Regions from separate parts of the Homo sapiens genome. Here all the other regions are linked to region 3. The links come from fine-mapping of genetic effects on gene expression. A gene starts in region 3. Each other region holds a variant in brackets. All regions are shown on one strand. Distances are between the middles of the regions.

What was found. PIP is the estimated chance that this variant, and not a neighbour inherited with it, causes the effect.
Region 1: its variant is the best candidate, but not a certain one, in a credible set for the expression of CD38 in gastroesophageal junction (GTEx, PIP 0.79).
Region 2: its variant is the best candidate, but not a certain one, in a credible set for the expression of CD38 in subcutaneous fat (GTEx, PIP 0.85).

Annotation. Positions count from the first base shown.
Region 1 is chr4:16,054,900-16,060,129 of GRCh38, reverse strand. The region is part of intron 2 of PROM1 (prominin 1); the gene reads left to right. Among named protein-coding and RNA genes, the nearest start is that of PROM1, 27 kb to the left of the region's middle. The variant T/C (reference allele first, on the strand shown) is at 2,091.
Region 2 is chr4:15,735,136-15,740,365 of GRCh38, reverse strand. It overlaps a transcript of BST1 not described here. Among named protein-coding and RNA genes, the nearest start is that of BST1, 35 kb to the right of the region's middle. The variant T/C (reference allele first, on the strand shown) is at 2,491.
Region 3 is chr4:15,775,629-15,780,858 of GRCh38, reverse strand. It overlaps CD38 (CD38 molecule), which reads right to left and starts at 2,531. Exons shown (of 8, transcript NM_001775.4): 1 at 2,212-2,531. The coding sequence starts at 2,444. RefSeq lists silencers at 1,773-1,822, 2,013-2,062 and enhancers at 2,193-2,692, 2,104-2,746.

The DNA.
Region 1 (5,230 bases), 280 kb before region 3:
CTCAGCCCCCCGCCTCCCTTTATAGGCAACCATTGTTATCAGCGTTTGTGTGTGTCTGTGTCTCTTCAGACCTATTTTATGCATGTAGAAGCCAACATGTGTATATGGTCTTGTCTCCATCAGTGAAAAAATACTGTATATATTACTTGGCACCTTGCTTTCTTTTTAAACATACAGCTTGATTATTATTTTATATTAGCACCTAGAGAGCCCTCTCATCCTTATTTTTTTAGATCTACCCCTAACAGTCTTACTACCATTTTTTTTAATTGCTGTGAGGTAGTTTATTATTTATCAATTAATTTCAACCATTTTGCTGTTATATACATTGTTATAAATTATTTTAGTTATTTCACAAATATGCAAGTATATATATGGGGTAAACTCCTAGAAATAGAATTGCCAGGTCAGTTTATAATTTCATGAATTTGCACTAAGTGACTTTTCACTGAGGCTGGACTGCAGTGACACAATCGTAGCTCACTGCAGCCTCCACCTCCTGGGCTTAGGCGATCCTCCCACCTTAGCCTCTCCAGTAGCTGGAACACAGGCATGCACCACCCCACCCGACTAATTTTTTTTATTTTTTAGAGAGACAGGATCTCCCCATGTTGCCCAGGCTGGTCTCGAACTCCTGGGCTCAAGCCATCCTCCTGCCTTGGCCTCCCAAAGTGCTGGGATTATAGATGTGAGCTTCTGAGCCTGGCCAGTTTGCACTTTTGATAGATATCACCTAATGGCACTCCATAAATGTTGAACCAGTTTACCTATACATCAGAAAAATGCAGAAACAGCTCACTGAATTTTGTCTACTGTCTTGTGGGGTGGACATTTCTATTTTATGTACATGGAAATGGAGGCTCGGAGAGGGTAACTCACTTAGCCAAGGGTCACATAGCTTGTGAGTGGGCAGAGCAGGAATTTGAACTCATATCTGACTGATTTCAGAATCTTGTTTTTTTCATTATCCTCTTAGACTAGGCTATTACATAATACATTTAGGAGGGTTGAACAATGCATTCCATGAAAATGCTTTGTAAGTTCCAGTACTTCCTAGATGTCTAGAAAGGAAAAACAAGTGGAGTGATTCTGAACATTTGATATAAAGGTTCTGTCCAGGTATTACTCAGTGGAGTTTAGCCCATTCCCAAGGTACCTTTTTGGACACTGTACTGCTTGTTTTCCAGGTGTGTCTTCCCTGCTGCAACATGACTAGGCTCCAGAGTTAAGAGCTGGGCTTTATGCCTCCTAATGTGCCTTTTAACTGAAAAATTATCTTTGTTTTGTTTAGTTTATTTTTAGTAATTCTTCTATTTTTGGAAGCTTATTTACTTTTTTTTAGCCTTTTGAGGTAAATTATTTTATTTTTATGCTTATTTCCTAATAAATGCATTTAAGTCTGTAAAATTACTCCTGAGGACAGTTTTGGCTTCCTCCTCTAAGTTTTTAAATGCGGTGTTCTCATTTTTTTTTTTTTTTCCCGGAGATGGAGTCTTATTCTGTCGCCCAGGCTAGAGTGCAGTGGCGTGATCTTGGCTCGCTGCAACCTCTGCCTCCTGGGTTCAGGCAATTCTCCTGCCTCAGCCTCCTCAGTAGCTGGGATTACAGGCATGCATCACCACGCCTGGCTAATTTTTGTATTTCTGTAGAGATGGGGTTTTACCATGTTGTCCAGGCTGGTCTTGAACTCCTGACCTCAGGTGATCCACCTGCGTTGGCATCATTTTTCATTTCTGATAGTTTATCATTTGAGTTTTGATTCCCCTCTTTACTCATTTGGCTAATAATATTGAATGAATTTTATCTTTTTGAAAAGCAGTGATTTTTTAAAAAGTATGAGTTGTTATAGTTAGTTCAGTAAAAAATGTTAAAGCCTTCAGTGGTTGTGTTCTGAAGTCCACTGGGCTTTGTCCTGAGCTGTGAGCCGGATGCCTAGAGCGATTCATAAGGCCCCTTCACTCTCTCCTCACTGTTTTCTGGAACTGCACAGTGAAACCTGTTCCTTCCATTACAGTTGTTGAGGCATTTGTTGATTATGTCCCAGTTTCCTCTTTGTGAGAGCCCTTGGAAAAAAACCTTCTTTCTAGTCT[T/C]TTTTTCCTGAACAATTGGCCTGGACAGTTTCAGGTGGCTGCTACTGGGAAGTTTTGAAACAGTGAATCACCCTTCGCCACAGGTATAGGACTCTGCTGTACCTTTTGCTTCGTATGTTCCTTGTTCAGCAAACAGGTAAGGAATGAATGCTGTGGGGGATGGAACCATCAGTCAGAGAGCATCTGACTCTATGGAGCTCCTGTTTCCTCTTAGGTCCCCGGGCTTGCTTTTCTTTCTTTTTCTTTCTTCTTATTTATGTTATCGTAATTCTATATGTATCTCTGTAAACCTAGGTAGATATAAATAGAAATAAAAATCCTAATCTTTCTTGAGTGGGATTAAAATAAGAAGAGTCGATAATTTAAAACTAGAGAAGGGAAATAGAGAAGATCTGTTTTCCCCATCAGCCTGGATGAAAGAAGTTTCTTTAGCCTTGCAAGGAGAGTGGTGATTAGTTTACAGAAAATGGCTGGAGAGACAAAGATTCTGTTGAAGAAGCCTGTGGAGAAGAAGCTTCTTAGCTCACCCTGGGAGCCAGAAGGTGGTGATGTGACTGTTCACATTTGGTTTTTCCTTAGCGTTGATTACTTCATGTAGGAGTCTCTAAGTTCCCGAATTATGATTTGAAATGTTTCAATCTGATGCTGTCACTGATGAAATTAGGACATGTTTACTAATTGAGATGAAGGCTCTCTTCGAACCTGACTGCATCCTGGGAAAGAGGAGGTTGTATACGTTTTTATATCCTCTTGGAAACTGGCTGACCCAGAAGCTCAGCCTAATGAGATTTGGACAGCAGGCTTCCAGAAGGGTGATTGATTGTGACATGCTGAGTTTTATGTGCCAGATCTGTGTACAAATGACTGACTACCCGGATGCCTGCCTGGCAAGGAATTGTGTTTCTTTAAAGAGCCATTCCAAATATAACTTGTGCATAGAAATAAAACTGAGAAGAAATGAGTATCTCCTTCTGAAATTCAAGTAAATAGCTCCCTGACTTCAGAAATGACAGCTTCCTAAGCGTTGTATTGCAAAAACAGGAGCAGGCCAGTCTTCCTGAAGACTAATTTGCTCGCATGGAAATCGCATGCTCTCGTGTGAGAGTGTATTTCAAATCTGTCCCCTTCTGACCACCAGGACTGCCCTCTCCCAGCTGAGGCTGCCAGTCCCCTGGACCATGGCCAGGGCCTCCTAATGGGCAGAGAGAATGGGCAGCAGCTTGCAGTAGTAGCCCCAAACCCCTGTAATAGCTAGGCCAGCCGACTCCCTGGAACATGCCAAACGCTCCTAAGCCTCAGACCCTTTGCTTCTCTGCCTATTCCCTTTGCCTGGACGACTCTTCTGCATGGCTCGTTTCTTTTTTTTCTTCTTTCGATTTTTTTTTTTTCATGGCTTGTTTCTTTCCAGCCTTTGCTCAAATGTCATCTCAGAGGGACAGATCGTCTTCCACCCCAACACCCCTCACCTTGCTTCATTTTTCTTTATAGCATTTATTCTGGTATTACAATAAATATTTGTTTATCTCACTTGATAGACTCTAAACATCTTGAAGAGGGGAACACTATTGATTTTGTTCACTCCTCCATACAATAGCCCCAGAATCTGGAGTGGTGCCCACAACGCAGCAAGTACCCCATAATTGTTGCGTGCAAGAGCGGATACACTCTTGTGTACCCTCTCAGGGCCCCCTCCTCTTCCCTTTGTGAGCACCCACAGTCCTGCGTTATAAAGATCCTCTTGCCCTCCTCTGCCACCATGGTTGTTGTTTGGTGGAATCCTAAATCTGGTTGCAGCGTTTTCTGGTTACTCCACTTCCTCAGGCCTACACCCAAGCGGCCGACTGCTCCTAGAAACAATTGCGACTGTGCCAGCTGGACTCTCTTAAATGAATATCCACAGCCCCCACGAGGATGCTCGTACTCCTGACAGCTCTGACCTGTTTCTCAGTCAATCCTCTTTCCTAACCCCCTGCTTGCACACGTCCTCTTCTCTTCTCAAATCTCTACCCTGAACTCTCCTCTGCCAGCTAGAGACCTTACTCTTCATGGAGAATATGGACAGAGTCACTTGCAGACTCACTCACCCCTCCCTGTTTTGACTTCCAGATTTCTACTAGGGTTAGATATGCAGGAAATGTTTTTGTTTGTGTTTAGGATTCTTTTCCCAGAACATTCTTAGCCAAAAGATACGATTAATTTCCAAGTTTTTGAAAGAATTATCAATCCACCAGAAGGTCTGTGATGTTTATGCCACCACTAGTAATGTGTTGGGTATTTAGAAAATGGAATTGTAAAGGCTATGACATTGCATTTTTAAAAATATATATTTCTCATTACCGTCAAGGTTGACCGTTTTCACATCTGTTTCCTTTCTAAGGGGTTTGTCTGTGAAATGCCTCTGCCTAGCTATGTAGCAGAGTCTTAGTCTTTTTATTATTGATTCCGTGACAGCCTCTCTTCAGACGAAAACCCTTTCCCTAGGCTGTTTACCGTGAATTGGTATTAGGCTATTTGGTTCTAGGGAATTTGTGAGTTTGGGGAGATCTTCCGATCAGAAATAATTATTCAATTCCCTACTTCCATTTTGTAGATGAGAACACAAAGGCCCAGATAGGAGAAGCCTGCTCATTTAAGACCCTGCAGCCAAATGAGAGCTGGTAGGATAACGAAGCCAGAAAGAGGACAAGGGGAATTTTTGCCTGGGAGGTTATCTCAGCACACAAGTGATCCTCCTGCCTCAGCCTCCTGAGTAGCTGGAACTGTAGACGTAAGCCACCATGACCAGCCTAATTTATCAAGAATGGTACTGTGATTATGAATCCACATTTTGTTTCTCCAAGGAAAATAGTCTTGCCTAGGAGAATGCTAGGTTCTTAGATCTCATTTAGATGTCTCATTTGGGGCATGCAAGTTTTACTAAGCAATTGCTACAGGTGGACAGCACTGGGTTAGGAGTTACAGGATTTGTGTGGCAGAGAGAACATCTTCTGCTTTAAGGAATGAACAGTCTCTCTAGCAGAGTAGACAAATGTATTTACGTAGAATAAATAGTCCAGGGAACATGTAAGCCAGTGGATCATTAAATGTCACAAGTGAGTTATGAGTTGCAGGGATTTAGTGATGAGGGAAATCAGCTGAGG
Region 2 (5,230 bases), 40 kb after region 3:
ACTAATTTAGGCCCGACATGGTGGCTCATGCCTATAATCCTAGCACTTTGGGAACCCAAGGCGGGCAGATCACTGTGGTTAGAAGTTTGAGACCAGCCTGGTCAACATGGCAAAACCCCGTCTCTAGCAAAAAGAATACAAAAAATTAGCCAGGCATAGTGGCGTGTGCCTGTAGTCCCAGCTGCTAGGGAGGCCGAGGCATGAGAATCACTTGAACCTGGGAGGCAGACGTTGCAGTGAGACGAGACGGTGCCACTGCACTCCAGCCTCGGTGACAGAACGAGATTCAGTCCCCCCTGCCCCCAACTAATTTAGTTATCAGCCAGTGAGGATCAGGAGATACACTCTCTCCCTGTCTCTCTCTATCCTTATCTCTCTCTCTCTCCCTTCTTCCCTCTCTTTCTCTGTCTCTCTCTGTTTCTCTGTCTGTCTGTCTCTCTCTCTGTCAATGTCTCCCTCTCCTTTTCTCTCTCTCACCGACTTCCCTCCCTCCCTTTCTCCTTCCCCCTCCTACCACCAAATTTTATTACTAGCAGCAATGGTGAACAATGACTTCACTCTGATTATATTTCTGTACACATCTTTTTACCCTACAAAATTTAATCGAGTTTAATGTGTTCCCCTGAGAGCTTGTCACTGTATGTTAACTATTTTAAAATTTTACAAGCACCATCTTAGAGTTACTGTGTCACATGTCCTATAGCAAAGTCATGAAGGTGCAGCTGGCACAAGTCAAATGAAAACCCTTCTACTTTTGTGCAGGGGAGAAATACACACACACACACACACACACACACACACACACACACACGGTTTGGCTTCTTAACATGCATTTTTCTCAAATAAGTAAGTCATTTCAGTGAAGAGTTTGGGTAATTCTGACAGCTACCCTTTAATAGCTACATGATAAAAGAAGTTCCAAAGAACCAAATCACGTAACAAAGAATACATGTGCTTTAGAGAACCTGCTGCATTCTACATCTTTTAGGGGGAAAAACAAAACTATATTCCTAAAATTCTAAGCGGAGTGATTTAATACATATACGTTTCATATTGAAACATGTTTTAAAGAGACTACCAAGAAAACACAAATACATAAGACTTCAAGTAATGAGTAATTATGGTGAAATTAGCATAGTTCAGATTTTCCAACCTGCTTCATTGGTTATGCATGTGGGTGTTTGAAACCCTTGCCAGGTCTTTAAAAACAAGCTCCCAGTCTCAGCAATAGCTGTGCCCTGTTCTCCAGCATGGGCTTTCAATTTGCCCTTCTCTTTGGTGCCAAAAGTCTCCTGAGAAGAGTAAGGCTGAGTTCTGGGTTTCAAATGCCTGTGAATTAAGTTCTAGCAACTGCAGAGTCTCCAATGATGATTCATTGTCCTGAGTTCCACTTTCTCACCCTGGGAAACTTCAGAAAGACTGAAATGGAAATGAGCATTAGGAGCTAGGTCCGCTTGCCTGGGCTGTCTCTCAGGTTAGTGGAACTGGGATTACTTCTCAATCAGCCATGTTCATTTGGCACCTTTGGCAAACCTCAATTTTCACAGCAGGAGAAATAAAAAAAGCTAGTGTTCACTTGGCACATGCCTGCTTCTAGTCTTTACTTTGGAAATTTTCATTGTTGTGTTAGCTTACCAGGGTGGCCATAACGAACTATGAATTTGAGGGAACACAGTTCCGTCTGTAACAATCGTGTGGAAGCTGAACTTCAAACAGGTAAGCTATCAGCTGGCTAACGTGTGGTCATTCCCACTTCCCATCAAGGTTTTTTATTTTTATTTTTATTTTTTTATCAAACTCTCTTGCCTTCCAACATATATTTTTAAATCAAACAATATTTAGGAATGTTTTTAGGATCTTTTTCTCCTTTTATACTGACCAACATCATAGACTCCTCACCCTGTTTAACATCTTTGTATTCTCCGGTCTTTGTGAATGTCCCTCTGCTACCTTACTAGACACACCAGACTGACCGACTCTCTTATCAAAGAATGACTTATAGACGTCATTATTCTTTTTCCCAAGTGTCTGAAATTCCTTTTCAAATTAGGCTTTCATTTTTTTGAATAGGCTTTAATGTTTAGAGCAGTTTTAGGTTCACAGCAAATTTGAGCAGAAAGTACAGAGCTTCCCACATACGCTCTGTCCCCACACATACATAGCCTCCCCCACTGGCAGCATCCCCACCAGAGTGGTGGAGTGGTGCATTTGTCACAACTAATGAACCGACATTGAAACATCATGGTCACCCAGCCTCTGTAGTTTACCTGAGGGTTCACCCTTGGTGTTGTACCTTCTGTAGGTTTGGACACATATATAATCACCTGTATCCACAATTCTAGTATCATGCAGAGTATTTTCACCACCCTAAATATTTGGGAGTCCATTTTATCCTGTTTCCTCTGAAGCTTGTGGAGAGCATTCATGTGGACGGAGCTGGACTAGGCAGGCATGCAATTGACTCAACTCTTGCCAGAGCCTCTGGAGATT[T/C]CGGCTTCCTTGCTGTGGGAGTGGAAGGCATTTACATCTTTGGACTCTCTGACAGTCAGTATCTTCCCCATCATGGTTCCCACAGTTTCCTGTTCAGGTTCAGAAAGTACCTTGTTACCAAGTCTATCGTGCTAGAGGGAATACAGCCAAGTGTAAGGTACCTGGTACCTACGACAGGAGAGGAAAGAGAACTCAGTTCTTCATGTGCCCACCCAGTCCTTGTGCTCAGGGGTCTTCCATGTGCATTTCTCTTTTGGTCAAATGCTTAGCATTGTTCATTCACTTGGTAGAAGAGCATTAAGTACCCATTAAGTGTGCCAGGCATGGAGCTGGTGCTGGGACCTGTTTGTTGAAGACACACGAGGCTGGTTTTCTTAGCTGCTTTTGCCAGGGCTCCCTGCTGCCCCCTTGCTGCCCAGACCATGGAGGAACCGAGGCCAAGAGAGGTGACCTTGGCCAAGTAAGAAAAGCTTTCTATGTCTATGTTTTCTCATCTGTAAAATAGGATAATAAGAGAATTGATCCTATGGGGTCGAGTGAGGATTGAAAGGGGCCATTTATGAAAATACTTCACACAGTGCCCAGTGCACAGTAACTTCTGATCTGCAGAGAGTGCTGTATTGCAGATGGTGTTTAGACAGCTATCAAACAACTCTAGTAGTAGTAACAATAACACTAGCAAATAACACTTATACAGGGCTGATCTACTATACTCCTGGCACTGTTCTGGGTTCTTTATGCACATTCGCTCATTGAATTATGAGTACTTATAATCCCTACTTACACACACGGTGATGCAGCTCAGGTAAGGTAAGTGAGTTGCCCAAGGCTACACAGCGAGCAAGTGCTGAAGGTAGGATGTGGGCCAACCTGTTAGGTGCCAGAGTCCATGCTCTTGGCCACAATGTTAGGCTGCCTCCCCATTTCCTTTGTCTTGATTCCCCAAACCCAAGGTTCTCACCCAATCTGATCAAATGCTGACTAGGTCATGGCTGGTCAGGGTAAAGCATTATGACAGACACAAAGACAAAGAGGTAAAGTTGCTGTCCTCAAGAGAGAGAGACATAAAAACAAATGGATCTGGAACTAAGTAAGGCTTCGAGGAGGAGGTGAGCAAAGGTACCAGATCCAAAGGCTTATGTTGAGAATACGGAACTGAGAGAAGGTTCATGGAGAGTGCAGTGGGGTCTCCTGGGACACAGACCTAGTAAGGCAGTTTAGGGGCAAATGGAAAGATCTTGAATCGCAGATTTTTTTTTTTTTTTGGAGACAGAGTCTCACTCTATCACCCAGGCTGGAGTGCAGTGGAGCAATCTAGGCTCACTGCAACCTCTGTGTCCTTGGTTCAAGCAGTTCTCCTGCCTCAACCTTCAGAGTACCTGGGATTACAGGCACGTGCCACCACGCCCAGCTAATTTTTGTATTTTTAGTACATACAGGGTTTCACCATGTTGTCCAGGGCTCCTGACCTCAAGTGATCTGCCCACCTTGGCCTCACAAAGTGCTGGAATTATAGGCAGGAGCCACTGCGCCCGGCTTCTTGAAGAGCAGATTTTAAAATTTGAAATTTGTCTTGCCAAGGGTAGGAAACCATTGCTGATTTTGAGCAAGAGGACGATGCACTCAGGACCCTAGCGTAGGACATTGCTCTGGCAGCATTGTGGAAGTTAGGCTGAAGGAGAAACCAAGCAGAAGCAGAGAGATCAGTCAGGAGGCAATGATATGTTTGAAACCCATGATTTACCTTGTACAAAGGCTAGAACCGGCGGTTGTATGGTTCTGCTCTGGGTCGCACTCCTAATGTCCCACATAGCCTCTTGGGTCTATAAATATAAATATGTGCATAAAAACACATAGAAAAATGTCTGCTACTCTGCGTGCAGTATGACAGATGAGATTTGCCTTCTTCCTAATTTTTCTGTATTGTGTAGATTTTTTTCAAGTAAAGAGCCATTATTACTCTTATATTCGGGAAAAAAGTGAAGTTATGTTTAGTTTTTAAAAATAAAGCCTTATTTTTCTTATGGAACTCAAAATGGCATTTCTCTAATTGAGTCGCAGGTCACTGTGCTGTGAGTGGCTAAGTCGCCTGGTAACCCAGGCAACATGAAGGCAGCAGACACTGTGTTTTCCAAGCTTGGTCTAAGAGACGCCCCTTGGCTGGGGCTCCCATGGGATTGGCCTAAGGAGCCAGACGGTCCTGAGACAAACCATGAATTATGAATTGGAAGTTGGTTGGTTGGGTCCTTTTCTCTTTCTCTAAGTACCCAAAAGTCTTATGCTGCTTGTCATCTTCCCTCACGGCTCCCCTCACACACCCTAGCAATATCACACACTTCAAGTGTTTTATGAAAGTATGCCATAAATACAGAAAAGCATGCCACACCTTGTTATTAAGCTTCCCTTGTACCCTCCCTGGCCTCCTCCAACAAAAGAAAGCTAAAGAATCCCCCACCCTCTGTTTTCCTCTATTAAACTTAGTTCATTCACACGTGGAAGGTCTACTTCATCCAAGCAGGGCTAGGCTAGGGCTGCAAAGATGAGTGAGTCTGCAAAGAAGCCACAGTCCCAGGGTGAAGTTAGGCAAGGACCCAAACAATGCTGACACCATGAAGATGGGCCCTGTTAGGGAATTCTTTGCTTTTTTGCAGGGAGAGAGGTCAACAGAAGGATCCAGGGAGGAGGTGATGCTTAAGGTATGTCTTAGAGTCTGCCAGATGGGAGACAGGGCAGGAAGGAA
Region 3 (5,230 bases):
GGGATTACAGGTGTGAGCCACAGTGCCTGGCCCAACTCACTTCTTTTAGCTGTTTCTGATAAGGTGCAGAAAGAAAGAGAGAAAATAATTCTTTATTTTTTTAAAAGCAGAATCAAGAGCAAACATTTCCATGCCAGGATTTGTTGGGTTTGAAAATAAAACTGTCATTGTTAGTCTTTCCAAAGAATATCAAAAAAGAAATAGTCTCAAGGCAATGATCGAGTCCAGAGTGCTGCCAGTAAAACATGTTCACAAGGTCAAGATTTCAGGGATGTGGCTGTAAGACTGTATGTGTGTGTGTGTGTGTGTGTGTGTGTGTGTGTGTGTGTGTGTGTGTGTGAGAGAGAGAATATTATCTAAAATATATAAAAATCTCCCATAAGAAATAAATAAGCAGCTCAATAGAAAGTATCAAGTATCTGGACAGGAAAATCACAGAAAAAAATATAAATGGCAAATAAACATATACAAGATGCTTAGACTCACTGATACTGAGGGAACAATTAGATGCTCTTTTTTCTCTTAAGTAAAAAAGTTGAAAATATTCAGCATTCAAGAGATTGTGGGAAAGCATCCCCTCTGATAGACTGATGATGGGAGAGTAAAATGGCACAACTATTTTGGAGTATATATGGAATACCTGGAATTTGGAAAAATCAAAACTTAAAATATGCATAATTCTCCCTTTTACTCAGCAGTTTCATCACTAGAAATCTATCCTACAGAAATACTCCCATATGTACACACAATGTATGTATGAAGATTTTCATTGCATCATGTTTCTCCCAACTAAGGTGAAAATTTCATGAGTGAGAACTTCGTCATTCACTCTTGTGTCATCAGTAGCTAGATCACTGTCTGGAACATAGTGGGTGCTCAACAGATACTTGTTGGATGAATGAATGGGATTGAAAAATTGGAAACAAGCTAATTTCCTGTCAATAGGAAATGGTTACATCTAGTTTATGAAATACTATGGGCTGTCAAAAGAAATGAGATAGATCTTTATGTACTCACATTGAAAGATCTTCAAGACCAGTGTTACTTTTTTTTTTTTTAATGAGGTTGCTTTCTAACATTACCATTTCATTTTGGATTTCACTTCATACTTTACAATACAGCCTGGAGGAACGCCTCAACTTCTAGTTTCTCTCTCCATTAAGTATCTAATTATGTGTAAATAGAACAACTAACGGGACGCTGGGAAGCCCAGGAGGCAAACATTTTGCAACCGGAACTGTTGAGTGTGCTCGGAGAGGCGAGGGAGGTCTATTTGCTCGTTTCCTCGGATTGCTTAAATGCGGGATTTTGCTATCCCAAAGCACAGAGTGTAAAGTAGCAGCTCCCCCTGCCTGCCTTCCCGGCTTCTTCTGTTTTACAAGCAACGATAATTTCCCGGTGAAAGCGAGGCCTGGGAATCAAATCCAAAAAGTGGTTGTTCCCTTTAGGAGAGGTTAGTAGCTGGAAAGGAGCATGAGAAAACTGGAAGGTCCCATAGACTAATGTGTTTTTTTTCCAAGGTTTGTACAGATTCACCGAGTTGCTGCGCCTTATCATCTAAGTAATGTCTCGGTTTTAGAAGTTGACATTGTTTTGTTAATTACTTCTCTGGTCACATGCATTTCAGGCCGCGCAAAAAGAATCGGAGTGCTGCTTTATATAAATGAATAAAACTAAGTTCCGTGGTTTGGCCCTTCTACACCCTCCTCCCCTACCACAGGCTTTGCAAACCACTTAAGTGTCCTCTGTAACCGTCCGGGGGCACTTTCGGGTCAGAGACAGCGGGCGGAAACCGCAGAAAAAGTTGAAAATGTCAGCGACACCCTGCATCTGCGAGTTCTATTCCGTCCCTGAAGCGGTGAAGCGGGCTGAGCGCGCCGAGGGTGGGCTGCAGCCCGGCGAGGGGCTGGGCTCAGGGCACCTTGCCCAGAAGGCGGGCATCGGTGCCAAGTGTTCACCGGCTACGCAGCAGAGCCACCGAGCAGCGCCCCCCCCCGCCTCCCGCGGGCACGCTCGGTGCCAAGGCCAGCTGCTCCTGAAAGCGGCCCGCGGAGCCCCGAGCCCGGGACTCCCTACTCAGCACCACCCGGCGGGCTCTCGGCTGACCCGCCACGGAAGATGCCCGGTTCCGGGCGATCCGGGCGGCTTCCCTGCGCGCGGGGCCCTGCTGTCCCCGCAGTGCCCACCGGTGCGCCTTAGTCGCCAACCCACCTCATCTCAGGATGAATTTCAGTGTACTTGACGCATCGCGCCAGGACGGTCTCGGGAAAGCGCTTGGTGGTGCCCGGACCGCTCCACTGCTGGCGCCACCTCGGGACGACCACCGCGAGCACCACGACGAGGATCAGGACCAGGATACTGACGCCAAGACAGAGTTGGGCTCTCCTAGAGAGCCGGCAGCAGGGTTTGTCCCCGGACACCGGGCTGAACTCGCAGTTGGCCATAGGGCTCCAGGCGGGGTTGGCTGGGCGAAGATGAGGCCGGCAGGAGGCTAGGCAGCAAGAGAGAGGCTGGCTGGGTTCTGAAACTGCACCTCCCCTTCTGTTTCACTTGCCTTTTCTCTGTTTCCCTTCCCACCCCCAACCCCTTGCCTCAGAGTTCCGTGGCTGGTTACACCAATAAGAGTTTAAAAGACCAACAACTATAGGCTCCTGTGCAGTGACCCACCCACTCCACCTCCAGGGAGAAACAGCCACCTTAATCCTCTGCAGGTGTCCTAAGGGGGCAGACAGTACATCCTTATACTCCCTCCGCTAACTCCCTTCATCAACCGGGCACTTTACACCTGAGCCACATTTGCTTCCTGGAAAGCATGAGGGTGGGCTGCCTGCTTCTATACGTGTGTGCACACAATGCCCTCTGCCTGGAAAAGGATGTCCTACCTCTCTTTCTTAACTCTGACAAATGCCTGGTCAACCACCTTTAAAGACTCAACTTAAGTCTGACTCCTTCTCTCAAGAGGCATCAGTGGCTAAGCTCTGGGTTCAAATTTAGTTCTTGCTGGATGACATGGGGCAAGTTACTTAACCTCTCTGTACTTCAGATGTAAAGCCGGGATAGTAGCAGTACCTACTTCATGGGATTGTTACGAGGATTAAGTGAGTTAATATCTACAACGTGTTTAGCACAATACCTGGCACATGGTAATCACCCAGTAAATGTAAGTTGTTACTACCAGCTCTAGGAGCTGCTCAGAGATGCAATTTTATAGTCCATGGAATGTGTTTGAAGCAGGGTCTGGCACACAGTAATAATACTGCACTCTATGCGGGAGTTTAATAAATAATAAAGTGGCTTTTCTTGCCTCTTCTTTATTAAGAGAACATCTGTGACATTCAAGCAGAGACCTAAGTAATGTGAGCGATCAAGTCACCCAACTCCCTTGGGGCAAACATTTCCCAAGCAGAGGAAATGGCAGGTGCAAAGACTCTGAGGCAGAAAAGCTCTTGGCCTGTTCCAGAGCAGCAAGGAGGCCAATTGTAGTTAGGCTAGAGGGTTGAGGGAAACAGAACAGAAGTTCGGAAAGTAGCAGGAGACCAGATCACCCATAGCTCTGTAAGACAGGATGACTTTTTGGACTGTGTGTTTTATTTATTTTTTATCTTTTTTATTTTGTTTTAAGTTCTGGGATACATGTACAGGACGTGCAGAGTTGTTACATAGGTAAATGTGTGCCATGGTGGTTTGCTGCACCTATCAATCCATTGCTTAGGTATTAAGCCCCTCATGTTTTAGCTATTCTTTCTGATGCTCTCCCTCCCTCCACTCTCCCCAACAGGCCCCAGTGTGTGTTGTTCCCCTCCCTGTGTTCATTGTTCAGCTCCCACTTATAAGTGAGAACATGCAGTGCTTGGTTTTCTGTTCCTGTGTTAGTTTGCTGAGGATAATGGCTTCCAGCTCCATCCATGTCCCTGCAAAGGACATGATCTCGTTCCTTTTTGTGGCTGCACAGTATTCCCTGGTGTATATGTACCACATTGTCTTTATCCAGTCTGTCATTGATGGGCATTTGGGTTGATTCCATGTCATTGCTATTGTGAATAGTGCTACAATGAACATATGCATGCATGTATCTTTATAACAGAATGATTTATATTCCTTTGGGTATATACCCAGTAATGAGATTGCTGGGTCAAATGGTATTTCTGGTTCTAGATCTTTGAGGAATCCCCATACTGTCTTCCACAATGGTTGAACTAATTTACACTCCCATCAACAGTGTAAGTGTTCCTATTTCTCCACAACCTCACCAGCATCTGTTGTTTATTGACTTTTTAATGATCACCATTCTGACTGGCATGAGATGATATTTCATTGTGGTTTTGGTTTGCATTTTTCTAATGATCAATGATGTTGAGCTTTTTTTCATATGTTTGTTGGCTATATAAATGTCTTCTTTTGAGAAATATCTGTTCATGTCCTTTGCCCACTTTTTAATGGGGTTGTTTATTTCTTATAAATTAGTTTAAGTTCCTTGTAGATTCTGGATATTAGACCTTTGTCAGATGGATAGATTTTGAAAATGTTCTCCCATGCTGTAGGTTGTCTGTTCACCCTGATTATAGTTTCTTTCGGTGTGCAGAAGTTCCTGAGTTTAATTGGATCCCATTTGTCATTTTCGCTTTTGTTGGAATTGCTTTTGACATTTTCATTATGAAATCTTTGCCCATGCCTATGTCCTGAATGGTATTGCCTAGATTTTCTTCTAGGGTTTTTATAGTTTTGGGTTTTACATTTTAAATCTTTAATCCATCTTGAGTTAATTTTTGAAAAAGGTGTAAGGAAGGGATCCAGTTTCAATTTTCTGCGTATAGCTAGCCAGTTTTCCCAGCACCATTTATTAAATAGGGAATCCTTTCCCCATTGCTTGTTTTTGTCAGGTCTGTCAAAGATCAGATGGTTGTAGATGTGAGTCTTATTTCTGAGATCTCTATTCTGTTTCATTGGTCTATGTGCCTGTTTTTGGATTTTATTTTTAACCCATTCGTGTGCATTTTATTTTTACCCATACAAGTCACCAAATGACTTGATCTGGCATATTATTTTAAAGGATCAATCTGGCTTTGGTATTAAGAATAAATTGTAGGAGGATAAGGATGGAGAACAGTTACAATGGCTGTAGTAGCAGTAATGAAGGTGGCAAAGAAAAAAAAAGATGGATTCTGAATAGAGTTTGAAGGTAGCAGCAGCAGGATTTGCTGATGAATTGGATGTAGCATTTGCAAGAAAG